5 linked regions of the Homo sapiens genome follow. The protein of the gene in region 1 purifies or fractionates together with the protein of each later gene. This does not show direct contact. Each region holds a gene or a part of one and is shown in the gene's direction. Other genes may lie near its edges.

Region 1 (3,530 bases):
GTTTTGTTTTGTTTTGTTTTTTGAGACAGAGTCTTGCTCTGTTGCCCAGGCTGGAGTGCAGTGGCAGGATCTCAGCTCAATGCAACCTCCACCTCCAGAGGTCAAGTAATTATTGTGCCTCAGCCTCCTGTAGCTGGGATTACAGGCACCCACCATCATGCCCGGCTAATTTTTTTTTTTTTTTTTTTTTGAGGCAGAGTCTCGCTCTGTCACCCAGGCTGGAGTGCAGTGGTGCGATCTCGGCTCACTGCAAGCTCTGCCTCCCAGGTTCACACCATTCTCCTGCCTCAGTCCCCTGAGTAGCTGGGACTACAGGTGCCTGCCACCATGCACGGCTAATTTTTTTTTTTTTTTGTATTTTTAGTAGAGGCGGGATTTCACTATGTTAGCCAGGATGGTCTCGATCTCCTGACCTCGTGATCCGCTCACTTTGGCCTCCCAAAGTGCTGGGATTATGGACGTGAGCCACCGTGCCCGGCCATGCCCAGCTAATTTTTGTATTTTTGTAGAGATGGGGTTTCACCATGTTGGCCAGGCTGATCTTGAACTCTTGACCTCAGGTGATCCGCCCGCCTCTACCTCCCAAAGTGCAAGGATTACAGGAACGAGCCATCATGCTCAGCCTCACACCTGGCTAATTTTTGTATTTTTAGTAGAGATGCGGTTTTACCATGTTGGCCAGGCTGGTCAACGACTGCATTCTTATAATATTAAGTTGATGAGCCTGGCACAGTGGCTCACACCTATAATCCTAGGACTTTAGGGGGCCTAGAACTTTGGGAACACCTGAGGTCAGGAGTTCGAGACCAGCCTGACCAACATGGAGAAACCCCATGTCTACTAAAAATACAAAATTAGCCAGGTGTGGTGGTACATGCCTGTAATCCCAGCTACTTGGGAGGCTGAAGCAGGAGAATCTCTTGAACCCGGGAGGCGGAGGCTGTGGTGAGCCGAGATTGCACCATTGCACTGCAGCCTGGGCAACAAGAGTGAAACTCCATCTCAAAAAAAAAAAAAAAGTTGATGATTGCAAAAAAGGTCTTTCCTCTGGGATGTTGCACCCATGCACCCACCCAGTAACTGTGTGTCTGTCCACCTCACCTGCCTGCCAGAGGGTGACCGGAAGGCTTTTTTTGAGAGCTCTCAGTGGAACATCAAGAAGAACCAGGAGACCATCAGTCAGCTCCGCAAGGAGACTAAGGCACTGGAACTAAAGCTGCTGGACCTGCTCAAGGTAAGGGGCAAAGGGGTGGGTGTAGGGTTCCCGTGGCGGTGGATGGTGGGGGACAAGTAGGTAGCACCTGGCCTTAGCTGGAGGTGGCATGCTGAAAGGTGACTGGACTTCCCTCCTTGCAGGGAGATGAGAAAGTGGTCCAGGCAGTGATTCGCGAATGGAAGTGGGAGAAGCCATACCTGAAGAACAGGACAGGACAGGTTTGCCCACCCTCGCCCCACCTCCTCCTTCATTTCCAGCCTGGGTCCCCTCACCACTGGACTCCAGGCTCACCCTCTCCAATCCTTCCTGCACACTAGCTGCCATTCATGTGCTCATTCAATTAAATCTTTATTACTCACTTTCCTTGTATCTGGCATCCTGGCATGGTAGTAAATGCAGTGAAAAAGCAGACCAAGTCTCCACTTCTAAAAACAGCTCATATCCTAATAGGGAAAACAAGTTAAAAAAAAAAACATCACAGCCAGGCGCGGTGGCCCACGTCTGTAATCACAGCACTTTGGGAGGCCAAGGCGGGCAGATGACCTGAAGTCGGGAGTTCAAGACCAACCTGACCAACATGGAGAAACCCTGTCTCTACTAAAAATACAAAACTTAGCTGGGCATGATGGCACGTGCCTGTAATCCCAGCTACTCGGGAGGCTGAGGCAGGAGAATCGCTTGAACCCGGGAGGCAGAGGTTGCAGTGAGCCGAGATTGTGCCATTACACTCCAGCCTGGGCAACAAGAGCGAAACTCCGTCTCAAAAAATAAATAAAATAAAAATAATTAAAAAAAATAAAACATTTTAAAAGTCATTGAACCCAAGAGGCAGAGGTTGTAGTAAGCTGAGGTTGTGCCACTGTGCTCCAGCCTGGGAGACAGAGTGAGACTCAGTCTCAAAACAAACAAACGAAAACAATGACCAGTGGCACATGCCTGTAATCCCAGCTATTCAGGAGGCTGAGGCTGGAGGATTGCATGAGCCTAGAAGTTTGAGACTATAATGAGCCACAATTGCACCACTGCACTCCAGCCTGAGTGACAGTACAACCTGTTTCTTTAAAAAAAAAAAAAAAAAAGGCTGGGCGCGGTGGCTCACGCCCGTAATCCCAGCACTTTGGGAAACCGAGGCGGGTGGATCACGAGGTCAGGAGATCGAGCCCATCCTGGCTAACACGGTGAAACCCCGTCTCTACTAAAAATACAAAAGGCCGGGCGCGGTGGCTCATGCCTGTAATCCCAGCACTTTGGGAGGCCGAGGTGGGTGGATCACAAGGTCAGGAGTTCTAGACCAGCCTGGCCAAGATGGTGAAACCCTGTTTTTACTAAAAATACAAAAATTAGCCAGGTGTGGTGGCAGGCACCTGTAATCCCAGCTACTCAGGAGGCTGAGGCACAGAATTGCTTGAACCCAAGAGGCAGAAGTTGCAGTGAGCTGAGATCGCACCACTGCACTCCAGTCTGGGCGACAGAGTGAGACTCTGTCTCAAAAATAAATACATAAATAAAAAATAAAATAAAAATAAAAATACAAAAAATTAGCCAGGCATGGTGGTGGGCGCCTGTAGTCCCAGCTACTCAGGAGTCTGAGGCAGGAGAACAGTTTGAACCCGGGAGGCGGAGCTTGCAGTGAGCTGAGACTGGTGCCACTGCACTCCAACCTGGGTGACAGAGCGAGACTCTGTCTCAAAAAAACAAAAACAAACAAACAAACAAAAACAAAAGATAAAAAATTAAAGGCCGGGCGCGGTGGCTCACGCCTGTAATCCCAGCACTTTGGGAGGCTGAGGCGGGCGGATCACCTGAGGTCGGGCGTTTGAGACCAGCCTGGCCAACATGGCGAAACCCCGTCTCTACTAAAAATACAAAAAATTAGCCGGGCATGGTGGTGCATGCTTGTAATCCCAGCTACTCAGGAGGCTGACGCAGGAGAATCCCTTGAACCCGGGAGGTGGAGGTTGCTGTGAGCCGAGATCATGCCATTGCACTCCAGCCTGGGCAACTCTGTCTCAAAATAAATAAATAAATAAATAAATAAATAAATAAATAAATAAAAAATAAAACACAGTCTAGGCATGGTGGCTCATGCCTTGTAATACCAGCACTTTGGGAGGCCAAGGCTGGAGGATCACTTGAGCCCAAGAGTTTGAGACCAGCCTGCCAACATAGTGAAACTTTGACTCTACAACAAATACAGAAGATTTGCCAAATGTGGTGGCACAGGATTGTAGTCCCAGCTACTTGCCAGGCTGAGGTGGGAGGATCACCTGAACTGGGGAGGTCGAGGCTGCAGTGAGTCATGTTCGTGCCACTG
Region 2 (3,530 bases), on another chromosome or scaffold:
CGGACTCCACTTACCTCAGCTGATGAGCATGTACATTCCAAACTGGAAGGAAGTAAAGTAACGAAATCTAAGACTTCTCCGGTGGTATCTGGTTCATCTAGTAAATCAACCACCCTTCCAAGGCCACGACCTACCAGGACTTCCCTCTTGCGCAGAGCACGACTTGGTGAAGCTTCAGACAGTGAACTTGCTGATGCTGACAAAGCATCTGTTGCTTCTGAAGTATCCACAACAAGTTCTACATCAAAACCTCCCACAGGAAGGCGTAACATCTCTCGGATTGATTTATTGGCTCAGCCTCGTAGAACACGACTTGGCTCACTGTCAGCTCGTAGTGACTCTGAAGCAACAATTTCTAGAAGTAGTGCCTCTTCGAGGACCGCAGAAGCCATCATTAGAAGTGGAGCCAGACTAGTACCATCAGATAAATTTTCTCCTAGAATTAGAGCTAACAGTATCTCTCGACTCTCAGACTCCAAGGTCAAAAGTATGACCTCAGCTCATGGCTCTGCTTCAGGTAAATTGGATCCAGATTTCTAATAGCATTAGCATGTTGTATATTTGGGGGCTCCTTTTTTTTTTTAAAAAAAAAAGTAAGGTTCTAGTTGTCTTCCCAAGATACTCATTCAAAACAAAAGTTATGATATACGGGGCAGCGGCGGTGGGGGGTCTATAAAACAGTTTTATTTAGCATAGTAAATGGAAAATCAGAAGTTATACATACTTCCAATTAGAGTCCTGGCGCAAAATAGTGATTTCAAAACTAGGAATTCATTGAGCTGATTTAGGAGTTTTAATTTTCCAGTTGGTGCTATATTTGGATGTGTGTGTCAAAATTAAATTATCTGGAAGTATCTGGTTTAAAGTATAGGAATTAACATTGTGCTTCTAAAAGCATGTGTTTAACCTTTAAATATCCTCACATAATTCAAAGCCCTTAAGAACTTGAAGAAAAGCAGTATATGCTTTATTACTCCTTTCAGAGTTAAATGAAATAATCAATGTTTTCTTTTTTTTCCCTACCCATTTTGAAATGTCTCACATACTTTACCTATACTTTTTAAAGTTAAATCTGTTTATAGTTGGAGCAGGTGAAAACTAACCTTAATTTATTTCAGTGGAAGAAGATGGATTCATGGGGAATCACTCAGCGTATATTGGCCAAACTGGGCTGTAGAAATTTAACTGGTTATGAGCATTATCTCACAAAGTGCTGTTATATCATTTAACTCTAGTAATTAGGTGTAATTGAATATAATAACTACAAAAACTACTTACTTTCCACCAGAATTTAACTGATGCTGTTATATTTGTTTGCTTATGTGCTTTGTATTCAGAGCTGAGGCCATTGAGATACATGTGTGACCAAAGAGTAATGAGGTGGATATTTGTTTGTGTCCTATATGCATGTTCTCATTACTTCATAATGAGCCTCATATGTGGACGTGGCTGCAAAGGCCAGTGTGGGAGGCCAGCTGTTACAACGGACATGAAGATGTGTGATTATTTTCAGTAGGCAGACATCTAAGTAAGCCCTAAGTCTTGAGTTAAGAGTGGAGGGGAAGTTGATATGAAATTTCATCTTTTTATTTTTGATTGGTTTACATCTACCACACCATCTCCTACAAGACCCTAAAGGAACAGTACTTTGCATATGATACTTTTTTCACTTTTCTTCCTCTTTTCACTGCTGCTTTCCTCCACTCCATTCACCTGTATCTCTTTGCTGGTCAGTGGGTTTGGTAATGATGGTCACTGTCTATGGTAGAAATGGACGTAGGGTGAAGCCAGATAGCATATAATCATGATTCCAAAAAAAATAGACAACATTTTCCTTATTACCCCAGTCCTCATTTCCACACTTGAAGCTTTGGTTGGTGGTTCACAAATTTATTGCCAAATATTTTAAAACTAACTACTACATTTTGGTTTATTTTCATTCTGTTTTTGGTTATGGCTCTACTTCAATTCACATTTCATCTGTGCTGCATTTCCTGATGAAATTTCTTCTGCTGTACTCCTTGTTTTATCACCTCATCTCCATTAAGATATGTATGTATTTTCCTGTCTTAACATAATTTCTATGTTACCAGATAGCTTGGAGTACCTCTTAACACATGATGTGGTTTTATTCCTCGATATTTAGGATAAGGCTTGAGATGCAAGCTAAATATGATTACTTCAGCAAGTCTAAGAAACAACTGTAAGATGCTATATATAAAGACAGATTTCATTTTCTGCTTCTTTGAATACAGAACTTGATAAATACTCAGTTTTCTGTGTCCAAAAATAACCTTGAATTGTGTATGAAATTCCCTAGGACACATTGATGTATATGATTTTAGTCTTTTCATACTTACTAGCAGTATATTAAATAATTAGAATCATGGAATTTAAAAGTTAGAAGGGTTATTCTCTTAAGGGAACCAAGGCCAAGAGAGGAAATAACCTGCCCTGGGCACATGGCAGTGGCAGGGGCAGAATAAGAATCAAAGACTTTTAATCCCCAGCCTGTTTTTCTACCGTATCTATTCTAGCTCTAAGAAATAGTTTCAGTGTTTACTTGTATGCAAGCTTCCAGAAGACAGCTAGAATCTACTGGATTATTATCAGGAGTATATGCAAGGTCAATATACAATATAAAGGTTTTGGTATTGTTTACTAAAATCTTTGCAGTTCTGATGTTTTACCCAGTTTATATTCTCTATTCCACCTTATGAGTGTAAAGCCATATTGTAATCTAGGATTGTATATTCAGATTCTCTCAAGATACCCACTTATAGTATTAGACCTTATCTAGGACAGTGGCCAGGATCTTTCCTTCAGTGAGAACATACTATAATAGCTGTATGGAAAAGGTGGTCAAACAAACAAACCTACCTGTTTGATTTTGCTAATTTGGTGCCTTTGATATTATAACATTTCTTTTTAAGATAATTATAATATTTTGAATGGAAAAAGAAAAGCAAAATTTTAACTTTTGAAACATGATTTAAAAGAATGTTAAATCATGCCGATCAGTGTTGCTGTGCACAGTATAAACTTTAAAGACCTTGGAAATAATCTGAACCTAGCACTTGTGATATTGTCCCAATTGGATATGTAAAAATAATTCCATAATGTTTCCAATTCCATATTTTAGATGATGTCTCTAAAATATTTTTAGGCCAGCACAGTGTTTCATGCCTGTAATCCCAGTATTTTAGGGGAGGCCAAAGTTAGAGGATTACTTGAGCCCAGGAGTTCAAGGCTGCAGTGAGCTGTGATCACACTACTGCATTCCAGCCTTGGACAAGTGAGACCCTGTCTCCATTAAAAAAAAGTTTTTTTTAAAGAAATGTATGTGATAAAAATAGAAGATTGGAAATCTCAGATTTAGCAATATGAAGAGAAGAGTTCTGTATGTTTCTCTGATGTAATTTGCAATTTGCTTCTAGGAGTTTAACTAGTTTTTTTTTCCCCAAAACATTCTTTCAGTGCTTCTTTTTTTTTTTTTTGAGACGGACTCTTGCTCTTGTTGCCCAGGCTGG
Region 3 (3,530 bases), on another chromosome or scaffold:
ATTTAAACCCTCAAATGTGGTCAAACTGGTCAGATAATCCCATCAATTTCAGCTTAAAACACTGATTGATTGATTGATTGTCTGTCTACCTGGAATACCCTTACTAACCAACTTCTCCAACCCGGATTGGTTTTTCTTCCTCTTTGCTACACAGCTGTGCTCTTGGGACTTCCCTTTATCACCAGTTTGAGAATTCCCTTCATCTTTTTTCTGAGTTAGACCCTTTGTTTCTTGTATCTCATGTCCTCTTCATTTACTTTCTTTGTTTTGGTGTAGCATAGTCTCACTTGCTTTGAGGAAAAGTGGATGAGAGGTTTTTTTGTTTGTTTTTGTTATGGGACAGAGTCTTGCTCTGTTGCCCAGGCTGGAGTGCAGTGGCATGGTCTCAGCTCACCGCAACCTCCGCCTCCCAGGTTCAAGTGATTCTCCTGCCTCAGCCTCCCGAGTAGCGGGATTACAGGTGTGCGCCAGCATGCCCGGCTAATTTTTTCTATTTTTAGTAGAGATGGGATTTCACCATACTGGTCAGGCTGGTCTAGAAACTAATGGTATGTCTTTAAAACATCTTTACTTAATTTAGTTGATCATTTGGTTATCGAATTCTGAGTTTCAAATAATTTTTTTCGCAATTTTGAAAGCATTGCTTCATTTTCTAGAAGTTCTGTTGTTAGGAGTCCCATGAGATTCTTGTTCTTGGTAACTTAAAGGTTTTCTGGAAGTGTCCTTTCAATTGGGAAACTCATTTCTTTCAGTTCTGTAGCATTTCTTGTATTATTTCTTTAACCATTTCTTACCCTTTTTTTTAATGATGTTTACCTGAAAGCTGGAGTTTCTCTAATTTTTCTCTTATTCTCCTCTTTTGTTTGTTCTGCCTTTTGAGAGATTTCCTTACCCTTATGTTCCAGGGGAAGAAGATTGGGGAACTCATGGTTCAGTATCTAGACTTTTCCTCATTGTCCTGTATAATCACGGCCTTCACCCTTGTTGGGACTCCACAGATTTGGAGCTGATCAGATGGGTTTGTTGAGAACAGCAGCTTTTTTGGAGGATTTTAGGGGGAGGGAGATTCATTTGATTGTGCAAGATGGGCGACAGGGTGAGACTCCGTTTGAATTAAAAAAAAAAGAGAGAGAAATTTAGAACTGCATAATGAAAAAGTAGGCCACAAATATTAAGTTTTGGACAATTACAATTACATCTCTATCTTACTGTGCAAGATAGCGATGATGTGGCATCTCTTAGGGTCTTACTGTTCCTGTTTTCAGCCCTGCATCAGTTCTTGATATTTGACAGCTTAAGTGAATTCAGGTATTTGCTTATAGTGACATCTGCTGTCATGTAAAGAAGTACTGCTTGCATCAGATATTGTCCTGTTTACATAACATGGGCTGTGCTCCTTTCTAGCTGTATATCTTTAAACAAGGCATTTGCCTGCTTGAGCTTCAGTTCCCTTGTAAAGTGAGCAGGTTAGAGGCAAAAGATCATATAGAAGAATAATTTGTAAAGTTGTTTAATTATCTTAAGATTGTCTACTTTAATAACATAGTTGGAAGCAAAGAAGGTAATGGAATTATTTTTCTATTATGTTTTAACATAGTTGGAAGCAAAGAAGGTAATGGAATTATTTTTCTATTATGTTTTGGCATTGTACCTTGAATCTATTTCTTCATTTTGAAAAGGGGGAACTGGCGGGCTCGGTGGCTGATGCCTGTAATCCCAGCACTTTGGGAGGCGGAAGAAGTCAGATCACAAGGTCGAGAGATCGACACCATCTTGGCCAACATGGTGAAACCCCATCTCTACTGAAAATACAAAAATTAGCTGGGCATGGTGGCATGCGCCTGTAGTCCCAGCTTGTACCCGGGACGCAGAGGTTGCAGTGAGCTGAGATCGAGCCACCGCACTCCAGCCTGGCGACAGAGCAAGACTCCATCTCAAAAAAAAAAAAAAAAAAGGAAGGGGGGAACAGGCCTTGTTCCTTTATGTGCTGTCCTGACTGTTGTGTATTATTTTTGTTAAGATTGCTATAGTTCTTTTTTTTTTTTGAGACGGAGTCTTGCTCTGTCGCCAGTGCTGGGATTGCAGGTGTTAGCCTGGCATTGAGCAAGGTTTTGTAATTTAAGCATACAAGTCTCTCACCTCCTTGTTTACATTTATTCCCAGGCATTTTTTTCTTTTAGATGCGATTGTAAATGGAATTGCTTTCTTAATTTCATTTTCTGATTGTTCGTTGCTGGTACAGTAGTCCCTTCTTATCCACAGTATTGCCTTACGTGGTTTTACTTACCTGCGTCACCCGTGGTCCAAAAATATTGAATGGAAGATTATATAAATAAACATTTCATGAGTTTTAAATTGCAAACAGGTCTGAATAACATGATAAAAATCTCACGGCCTCCTGCTCCGTCCTACCCAGGACACGAATCATCCCTTTGTCCAACATATTCATGCTGTATGTGCTCCCCACCCGCTAGTTACATACTAGCCATCTCAGTTATCAGATCAGTTGTTGGAGTATTGCAGTGCTTGTGTTCAAGTAACCTTTATTTTATTTAAAATGGCACCAAAGAGCAAGAATAGTGATGCTGGCAGTTCACATATGCCAGAGAGAAGCCATATAGTGCTTCCTTTAAGTGAAGAGGTGAGTTTTTGACTTAGGAAAGAAAAAAGATCATATACTGGGGTTGCTGAGATCTATGGTAAGAACAAATCTTTTGTCCATGAAATTGTGAAGAAGGAAAAAGAAATTTGTGCTAGTTTTGTTGTGACACCCCAAACTGCAAAAGTTACAGCCACAGTGTGTGATAAGTGCTTAGTTGAGATGGACAAGACATTAAATTTGTGGGTGGAGGACACAAACAGGAAGCATGTTTCGATTGATGGCAACCTGGTTTGGTACTATTCATCGTTTTTGGACATTCACTGGGGTCTTGGAATTTCAAAAATAAGATGTTTGAGTAGCTGTATACTCTATCACATGGATGGAACATACTCTGGTTGTATCAGCATTTTTTTTTTTTTTTGAGATGGAATCATTCTGTTGCCCAGGTTGGAGTGCAGTGGTGCGATCTTGGCCCACTGCAGCCTCTGCCTCCCGGGTTCAAGCGATTCTTTGCCTCAGCCTCCCAAGCAGCGGGGATTACAGGCGTGTGCCACCATGCCCAGCTAATTTTTGTATTTTTAGTAGAAAGGAGGTTTCTGTATGTTGGCCAGGCTGGTCTCGAACTCTTGGCTTCAAGTGATCCACCCGCCTCAGTCTCCGAAAGTGCTGGGATTACAGATGTGAGCCACCGCACCCAGCCTGGTGTGCATCAGCATTTTGGACTTTGGAGTTTATGTAACCAAGGATCCAGGCTGTGGACCTCGTTTATTACTTGAAGAATTCAATATTTATTTCTGCCTTTTTGACTCCTTGACTGTAAAATACTGATCTGATCTGTAGAGAGAACAGTACATGGACCCGGGAATCCTCAGTGCCTTAATAGATCCTAAGTACTTACTTATTCTTTCCCATAGAGGCTTACACATGG
Region 4 (4,156 bases), on another chromosome or scaffold:
GGTGCTTTAAGACATTTTCCTTTTAATAAATAAGTAGGAAACAACATATAATCTCGTAAACTCGATGCTAAAGTTCCTCTATGGACTTTGGAAAGGCTGGCGAAAGCCAGCGTGCCTGAAACACAAGCTTCATTAGCTTAGCAGTAAATACCCTCCGGAAAGATCTCAGAGGAAGAAATTAGTGCCCTTTGACAGAATCGCCACCGTCCATTGCTCCCACCCTTTCGGCTCCAAAGCTCCTGCTCTTTCATTCAGCCTCAGACAAGCACTCACTTCTCAGGAAGTATTCCCTGAGACATTATGGAGGCGCCCAGGCTCCCACCTCGATTCCATTATAATATTTGATTAAGTTTGTGTTTTTGTTTAGTTTGTGTTATCTCCTCGTTATCTTGTAGGCTCACTTAGGGCGTGGCTCAAGGCTTTTAACAACCTTTCTGCTGTCATAGTTGTCCCCCAACAAGCCGTTGTTGAGTAAATGAGTTAATGCTCTGGGTGAAGGAGGAAAGCCCTCACTAGGAAGAGACTTGTGCCACCCGGGGCAAGAACATCAGAGATCCAGTGACAGCCCAGCGACCTCCGGGATCAATTGCAATGGGAGGGTAAGAGAGACAGCCAATCAGCAACAGCCTCTTCAAAAGCCATACAAAAATACGGACAGGTTTCCTACCCTACATAGGAATCTTTCATCACGCCTACGCACATTACTACACTGCATAAGTTAGCTAGAAATGTAATAATCATATTTTCACGACAATTATTTGAAATCCAGAGTGTCCTAGAGTATTCAAATCTTTAGAAAGCACGTGCCCCAAATGAATCGGACTGAACAGACGCTGGAACCGAACATGGTAAAGTAAAATACTTATCCATGAGGCACTTTGTAATCCCCGCACTCCTGCTCTGCCTAAAGAGAAACATCTCGGATGTGAGGTCCGCATAGGCATTAGATCTGCCGGGTGGACACAGGTCCCTACAGCGTGGGGTGAAATGGGCTCCACATGTTAGGTTAACAAAAGCTTACGACTCGCAGCCTTTTTCAAGGTAATACACATCTGCGGCTACATTCAGAATGTGGGTGTCCCTAAACCCCTAAAGCATGAAGCTGACAAAAGCACTTCCCAGGACAGGACGGTGAAGGCACAAAGCAAGGTCCGCACAAAAGCACACGCCCCTCTCAGAGCTCCGCGCGTGCGCACACCGACTGTGACTCTCAGCAGCCGGCTTGCGGAGCGGTTGCCGCGTCCTCTGCCGAGCTTCTTGTGCCCGCCTCCGAGCCTGAGGAAACAGCTGATTGATCAGCCTGGCTCAGGCTTGGGGCGGGGATTGGCTGATTGGCAGCAACGCCACGGGACAGCCAAGCTAGAAGCCTGAGGAGCCGGAGAGGGTGCTGGCTGCCGCGCGGCCGAGGTGAGTAGGGTGGGAACTCGGAAAAGCGGTTGGCTAGCGGGTGATGAAGTCGGCTGCAGGCCTGACGGCGATGGGATGCCCTGGAAACAGTCAGAACAGGAGCTGAAGGAGCTCGGTTCGGGAACGCAGGGAGGCCGGCGGGATCCTGGGCCGGTTGAGTGTTTGCCCCGCGGCCGGGAGGCAGAGACTGCCTCGGCTGAGGGCGCGTGGGTCGGGGGCTCCGGAGGAGCTGAGGGAAGTCGGCTGACTTGCCCTGAAGGCTGAGACTCGCCCACCCGCCAATCTACCCCTACACCTCCTGCCCCCTCCCCCGACCTTCGGTCCATCTTTCGGACCCCCGGTTCCCGCGCCGGCCGCCAGGCGGCGGTCCTGGGGAGACCGCCCTTCGCGGCGGCTCCCTTGGGTGCTGCGCCCTTAACGGGCTCAGGAGCCGGACTGCGCGGGTGCACCGCCAGCCGGCCTCCGGGAGGAGCAGTGCGCTGGCTGATCCGCCGGGAAGTTTAACCAGCTTCCTGTGGTTGCTGTGTCGCTTTTCGCCTCCTAGAACTTCCCAGTGTATCTTCTGACCATGACCAGGGTTTGCAGGAAACCCCAAAGCCGGCCTTTGGGCATTAACAACAGCAGCATTTTATTATGGAAATCTTCAAACTGTGGAGAAATTGAACGAAGGATATAAGGAATTCACTGTACTCATTACCCAGTTTCAGTAATTATCAATACGTGGGCAGTCTTGCTCCCCTAATCCGGGTTATTTTGCGTTTTTGAGACAGGGTCTCTGTCACCCAGGCTGGAGTGCAGTGGCGGGATCTCTACCCACTGCAGCCTCCACCTCCTGGGCCCCAGCGATCCTCACGCCTCAGCCTCCCCACTAGCTGGGACTACAGGCAGGCGCCATCACGCCCGGCTTTCCCCCCCCCCCCCCTTTGTAGAGATGGGGTCTCCTTATGTTGCTCAGGCTATCTTTGAACTCCTTGGCTTAAGCGATCCTCCCTCCTTGGCCTCCCAAAGTGTTGGGATTACAGGCGGGAGTCATCGCACCCGGCTATCCTGGGTTATTTTGAAGCAAATCCCAGACATTATATAATTTCAATTATTTTACATATTTCTATGCCTCTGTCATGATGAATAATCATACATATAATAATTTGCTTTCTAGAGGGGTCAAGTAAAATAAGGGACATATTAAAGTGTAGACAGTGCTCATTTAGTTTGTACTACCAGAATTTAGGTAACTGCTACAGTGCAGTTTCATTATCTTGTGCTCAGGTTTTCAAAATCAGAGTTACCAGATAATCTAGACAGTAGTGCTCTTGCTTTTGAATAGTAATAATTGTATTGATAATTTCTATTTGTCGAGTTCTTAGTATGTATGAAGGACTGTGAAGTTGTTTCCACCTACTCATTTAATTTTTGCAATAACCCTATGAAGTAGGTATTATTATCCCCATGTTAGAGTTAGGAGAAAGAAATTTGGAGAGGTCACAATTTACCTGAAGTCACACTGCTGAAAGGATGGGGGTGGGGGTAGAATTCAGAATGCTACTCTTGGCCTTTGTCATTGCAAAGTTCTTGCTCTTTTAACTGTAACAATGTCCTAGGAGTTGTGGAATAAATGGAACTGCTGTGGAAAATTATTTCTGTTAAGCCACAAATCAGTAATGGAAAAAAAAAAGCCTGAAAATTTACACAAATACAAACAATAGTGAGAGAGGTATGTTTGTTCTTTGAAAAGTTAAAGATTATTACAACTAAATTTGATGTCCTGAGAAAACATAGCTCAACAAATACAAGTGCTAAAAATTTTATTCTTGGCCAGATGCATGGCTCAGCCGAGCACTTTGCAAAGGCCGAGGCAAGAGGACCCCTTGAGACCAGCCTGGGCAATATAGTGTGACACTGTATTTAAAAAATAAAAGTAAAATAAACATTTTATTCTTTAATATGTAACCAGTTAGAGAGAAAAGGAAAATATACATCAATGAATAGCCTCTACCACTCCTTTAGCACATAGCATATATTGGATATTAATACTAAATATTTCATCTATATCCTTCATCCTCCCAATCTTAAACTACTAAGACAACATCTTCATCCAAATAGTGTTAGATGAATAAGGAATGAGATAGAAACAGCTGGGCCTCCTCTACTTATTCAAAGGACAGTAGAGAAGGACTATTAGCTTGGAGTTTAGGAATCCTACTGGATAGGAGTAATTCAGAAGTCCAGAAGTCAGGTCAGAATCCTTTGTGAAGGAACTTGAGTGCCACTTAAAGAGTTTAAACTTAATGAGCAAAGAAGTGACATGATCAAAGTTATCTTACAGGAAGATAGATACAGGAAGATAGCTGGTACTGTCAAAGGTGGCTTTACCAGTCATGTGAAAGGATTAGCAGTTGGTTGACCTGATAAATATAAAGGAAATAGACGTGGGGAACTGGCAAATTTATGGATATGAGGAAAGGACCAGACAGAGAATACAGCCTGAAACAGAGAAAAGAGAATGGTATATAGTAGGATTTTTTTTGTTTTTGTTTCTGTTTTTTTTGAGATGGAGTTTTACTCTTGTTGCCCAGGATGCAGTGCAGTGGTGTGATCTCTGCTCACTGCAACCTCTGCCTCCTGGGTTCAAGCGATTCTCCTGCCTCAGCCTCCCATGTAGCTGGATTACAGGCGTAGGCCACCACGCCCAGCTAATTTGTATTTTTAGTAGAGACAGAGTTTCACCATGTTGGCCAGGCTGGTCTTGAAC
Region 5 (3,500 bases), on another chromosome or scaffold:
GTTAGGATTTCAACCCAGGATTGCCTGACTCCAGAGTCTGGTCTTAACCATTTATCATACTCTGCCACTATGCCACACTGATCATTTTATGTCCTTTTTACAGGTTTGCCAATAGGATTATCCTGCTGCCATCATGTCTTGGTTTGTTGATCTTGCTGGAAAGGCAGAAGATCTTTTAAACCGAGTTGATCAAGGGGCTGCAACAGCTCTCAGTAGGAAAGACAATGCCAGCAACATATATAGCAAAAATACTGACTATACTGAACTTCACCAGCAAAATACAGATTTGATATATCAGACTGGACCTAAATCTACGTATATTTCATCAGCAGCTGATAACATTCGAAATCAAAAAGCCACCATCTTAGCTGGCACTGCAAATGTGAAAGTAGGATCTCGGACACCAGTAGAGGCCTCTCATCCTGTTGAAAATGCATCTGTTCCTAGGCCTTCATCCCATTTTGTGCGAAGAAAAAAGTCAGAACCTGATGATGAGCTGCTGTTTGATTTTCTTAATAGTTCACAGAAGGAGCCTACCGGGAGGGTGGAAATCAGAAAGGAAAAAGGCAAGACACCTGTCTTTCAGAGCTCTCAGACATCAAGTGTCAGTTCTGTGAACCCCAGTGTAACCACCATCAAAACCATTGAAGAAAATTCTTTTGGGAGCCAAACCCACGGTAGTTAATCAGTCCTCTTATTTCTTTTAGAGTTAAGCAAATTGAATGTGTCATCATATGATCCGATGGTGTTTCTCATCTACTGTTATGGAATCTGTCTCCACTGGTGTAAGGGCAGACTCTCTGCAAATGTGTGGTGTAAACAAGGGAGACATCATTGACTACTATTAGTCAATAGACAGTTGTAGCAGGGACTTCATGTTGTCTGGAGGGCAACTTCACCCACTCAGCATCTAACAAAGTATTTCAAATTTGTTTCTCTAAGACATTTTAAGATTAAAAAAAGAAAATTTTGAAATCTGAAAGAAAACATGTCAGTTTGGATCGGGGACTATCCCAGTTGATATCTTTTTGTTACTAGGATTATAAAAATGACAGGAGGCTGTACTTCACGTATTTTCTGGGTTGTGTTTTTTGTGTGTTTTTCCCCCCACATCCTCCACAAATAAAGCTGAGAGACTGAACTTTGATCCAAGTTGAAGAGTTGAAGGCATTGACCTAGTAGTGAAGCAAGAGCTTAGAACTCTTGTTTTCAATTGTTTAATTCCCTCTGAGATTACCTCTACAAGTACACCTTCTTTCTTGTGAAATGAGATTAACGTGGTAAATGTGGCTAATTCAAGTACCTACTAACTGTTTTAAAATAGCTATAGGCTGGGCGTGGTGGCTTACACCTGTAATCCGAGCACTTTGGAACGCTGAGGCAGGCAGAGCACTCGTGCCCAGGAGTTTGAGACCAGCCTAAACAACATAGCAAAACTTTGTCTCTACAAAAAATACAAAAATTAGCCAGGCACAGTGGTGCATGCCTGTAGTCTCAGCTACTTGGGAGGCTGAGGCGGGAGAATTGATTGAGCTCAGGAGGTCGAGGTTGCAGTGAGCCGAGATTGTACCACTACACTCCAGCCTGGGCCGTAGAATGAGACGCTGTCTCCAAAGATAAAAATAGAAAAAAGGCAAAAAACTTGATAGTAGGTTCTTGCAGGGATTCTTTTGTTGTTTTGAGACAGGGTCTTGCTCTATCGCCGAGGCTTAAGTGCCGTGATGCTATCACAGCTCGCACTACCTTTGACCTCCCCAGGCTCAAGCGATCCTCCTGCCTCAGCCTCCTGAGTAGCTGGAACTATAGGTGCACACCACTGTGCCCAGCTAATTTTAAAAAATTATTTTTAATAGAAACAGTGTCTCACTGTGTTGCTCTGGCTGGTCTTGAGCTCAAGTGATCCTCCTACTTTGACCTCCCACAGCATTGGGATTATGGGCATGATCTACCGTGGCCTGGCCATAGGGATTTTTTTTTTTTTTTCTTTTTTGAGACGGAGTCTCACTCTGTCACCCAGGCTGGAGTGCAGTGGCCTGATCTTGGCTCACTGCAAGCTCCACCTCCTGGGTTCATGCCATTCTCCTGCCTCAGCCTCCCAAGTAGCTGGGACTACAGGCGCCTGCCATCACGCCTGGCTAATTTTTTTTTTTTTTTTGTATTTTTAGTAGAGACAGGGTTTCACTGTTAGCCAGGAGGCTCTTGATCTCCTGACCTTGTGATCCGCCCGCCTCGGCCTCCCAAAGTGCTGGGATTACAGGCGTGAGCCACTGTGCCTGGCCTTTTTTAATGTTTTTATTTATTTATTTATTTATTTTTTTGTGAGACGGAGTCTCGCTTTGTCGCCCAGGCTGGAGTGCAGTGACGCGATCTTAGCTCACTGCAACCTCCACCTCCTGGGTTCAAGCGATTCTCCATTTCAGCCTCCCGAGTAGCTGGGACTATAGGTGTGCACCACCACCCTTGGCTAATTTTTGTATTTTTTGGTAGAGATAGGGTTTCATCACGTTGGCCAGGCTGGTCTTGAACTCCGGACCTCAAGTCATCTGCCCACCTTGGCCTCCCAAAGTGCTGAGATTACAGGCGTGAGCCACCACACCTGGCCAGGGATTCTTTATAGAGTTGATTATTGATGGGAGATTGTCATGTTCTTGGATGTTATAGCTTCTTTCATTGTCTTGGCTGTTAGTGAATAAAATCTTTCTTGTATTTTCAAGACAAAAACTTGTATAGAAGAAGACGTTTTGGGTTGTGAAAATAGGATCAGGCAGTAGCAGTTGATTAATATGTTCACATATTCCAAAATTTCTTCTCAGCTATCTTTCAATTAATTACACAAAGAACCTACTAGGTGCAAGGATATGGAAGTGTCCAGTGGGTGAGCTAGACATGTAAACAGATAATTTACTTGTGGTCTAGTAAATGTAGCAATTAAGTATGGTCAGAGTGTTGTGGAAGTATGAAGGAGGAAGTAACTAATTGCCTAGGGTATTCAGAAAGGATTCACAGAGGGTCTGTATTTTTAGCTGGGTCTTAAAGAATGAACAGGAGTTTGCCAGGTAAAAAGTTAGAGACAGCATTCCATGCAGAGAGAACAGACTCTAAGAGGCTAGTAGAGTAGAAAACATTGTAACAAAGTTGGAAACACTGAGTGAGTTGGAGGGTGATGAAGAAAATGTAGCTAGCAAACAAAGTTGGGACCTGTTTGTGAAGGCCCTTGTGTCATACTGTTTATGCAATTAAACCCATTACTTCTATAATCATTGTTAAAGATTGATTCCTGAACAACAGGCTTTAGAATCGCTTGTGTGTTGTTAATTTAAAAATGAATTATTGAGTGCCTTCCCAGGCTTCCTGAATCGTTATTTTCTGGGGATGGAGCCAGGGCATCTGATTTTGTTGTTGTTGTTCTGTGGGTGGTTCTTAGCCAATAAAAGTTGAAAGTGGCTGCCATAGCCAGTGTGATGCTAGTAGAGATCTTTAAGTCAAGAGTTGACATAGCT

Evidence for each region.
Region 2: the proteins of ODAD3 (region 1) and CEP170 purify together in Homo sapiens (affinity purification with mass spectrometry; 2 studies listed by BioGRID and IntAct, with this or other methods). This does not show direct contact.
Region 3: the proteins of ODAD3 (region 1) and RGPD5 purify together in Homo sapiens (affinity purification with mass spectrometry, with the first as the bait; 3 studies listed by BioGRID). This does not show direct contact.
Region 4: the proteins of ODAD3 (region 1) and MTFR1 purify together in Homo sapiens (affinity purification with mass spectrometry; 2 studies listed by BioGRID and IntAct, with this or other methods). This does not show direct contact.
Region 5: the proteins of ODAD3 (region 1) and GOLGA5 purify together in Homo sapiens (affinity purification with mass spectrometry; 3 studies listed by BioGRID and IntAct, with this or other methods). This does not show direct contact.

The regions. Positions count from the first base shown.
Region 1 is NC_000019.10:11,428,603-11,432,132, reverse strand, and holds part of ODAD3 (outer dynein arm-docking complex subunit 3), read left to right. Parts: intron 1-1,112; coding exon 1,113-1,234; intron 1,235-1,356; coding exon 1,357-1,434; intron 1,435-3,530. UniProt on the Homo sapiens protein: Component of the outer dynein arm-docking complex (ODA-DC) that mediates outer dynein arms (ODA) binding onto the doublet microtubule. Involved in mediating assembly of both ODAs and their axonemal docking complex onto ciliary microtubules.
Region 2 is NC_000001.11:243,161,271-243,164,800, reverse strand, and holds part of CEP170 (centrosomal protein of 170 kDa), read left to right. Parts: coding exon 1-517; intron 518-3,530.
Region 3 is NC_000002.12:109,797,302-109,800,831, forward strand, and holds part of RGPD5 (RANBP2-like and GRIP domain-containing protein 5/6), read left to right. Parts: intron 1-3,530.
Region 4 is NC_000008.11:65,643,378-65,647,533, forward strand, and holds the start of MTFR1 (mitochondrial fission regulator 1 isoform 1 precursor), read left to right. Parts: upstream 1-1,356; 5' UTR 1,357-1,407; exon of another isoform or gene 1,408-3,118; intron 3,119-4,156. UniProt on the Homo sapiens protein: May play a role in mitochondrial aerobic respiration. May also regulate mitochondrial organization and fission.
Region 5 is NC_000014.9:92,797,305-92,800,804, forward strand, and holds part of GOLGA5 (golgin subfamily A member 5), read left to right. Parts: intron 1-103; 5' UTR 104-133; coding exon 134-677; intron 678-3,500. UniProt on the Homo sapiens protein: Involved in maintaining Golgi structure. Stimulates the formation of Golgi stacks and ribbons. Involved in intra-Golgi retrograde transport.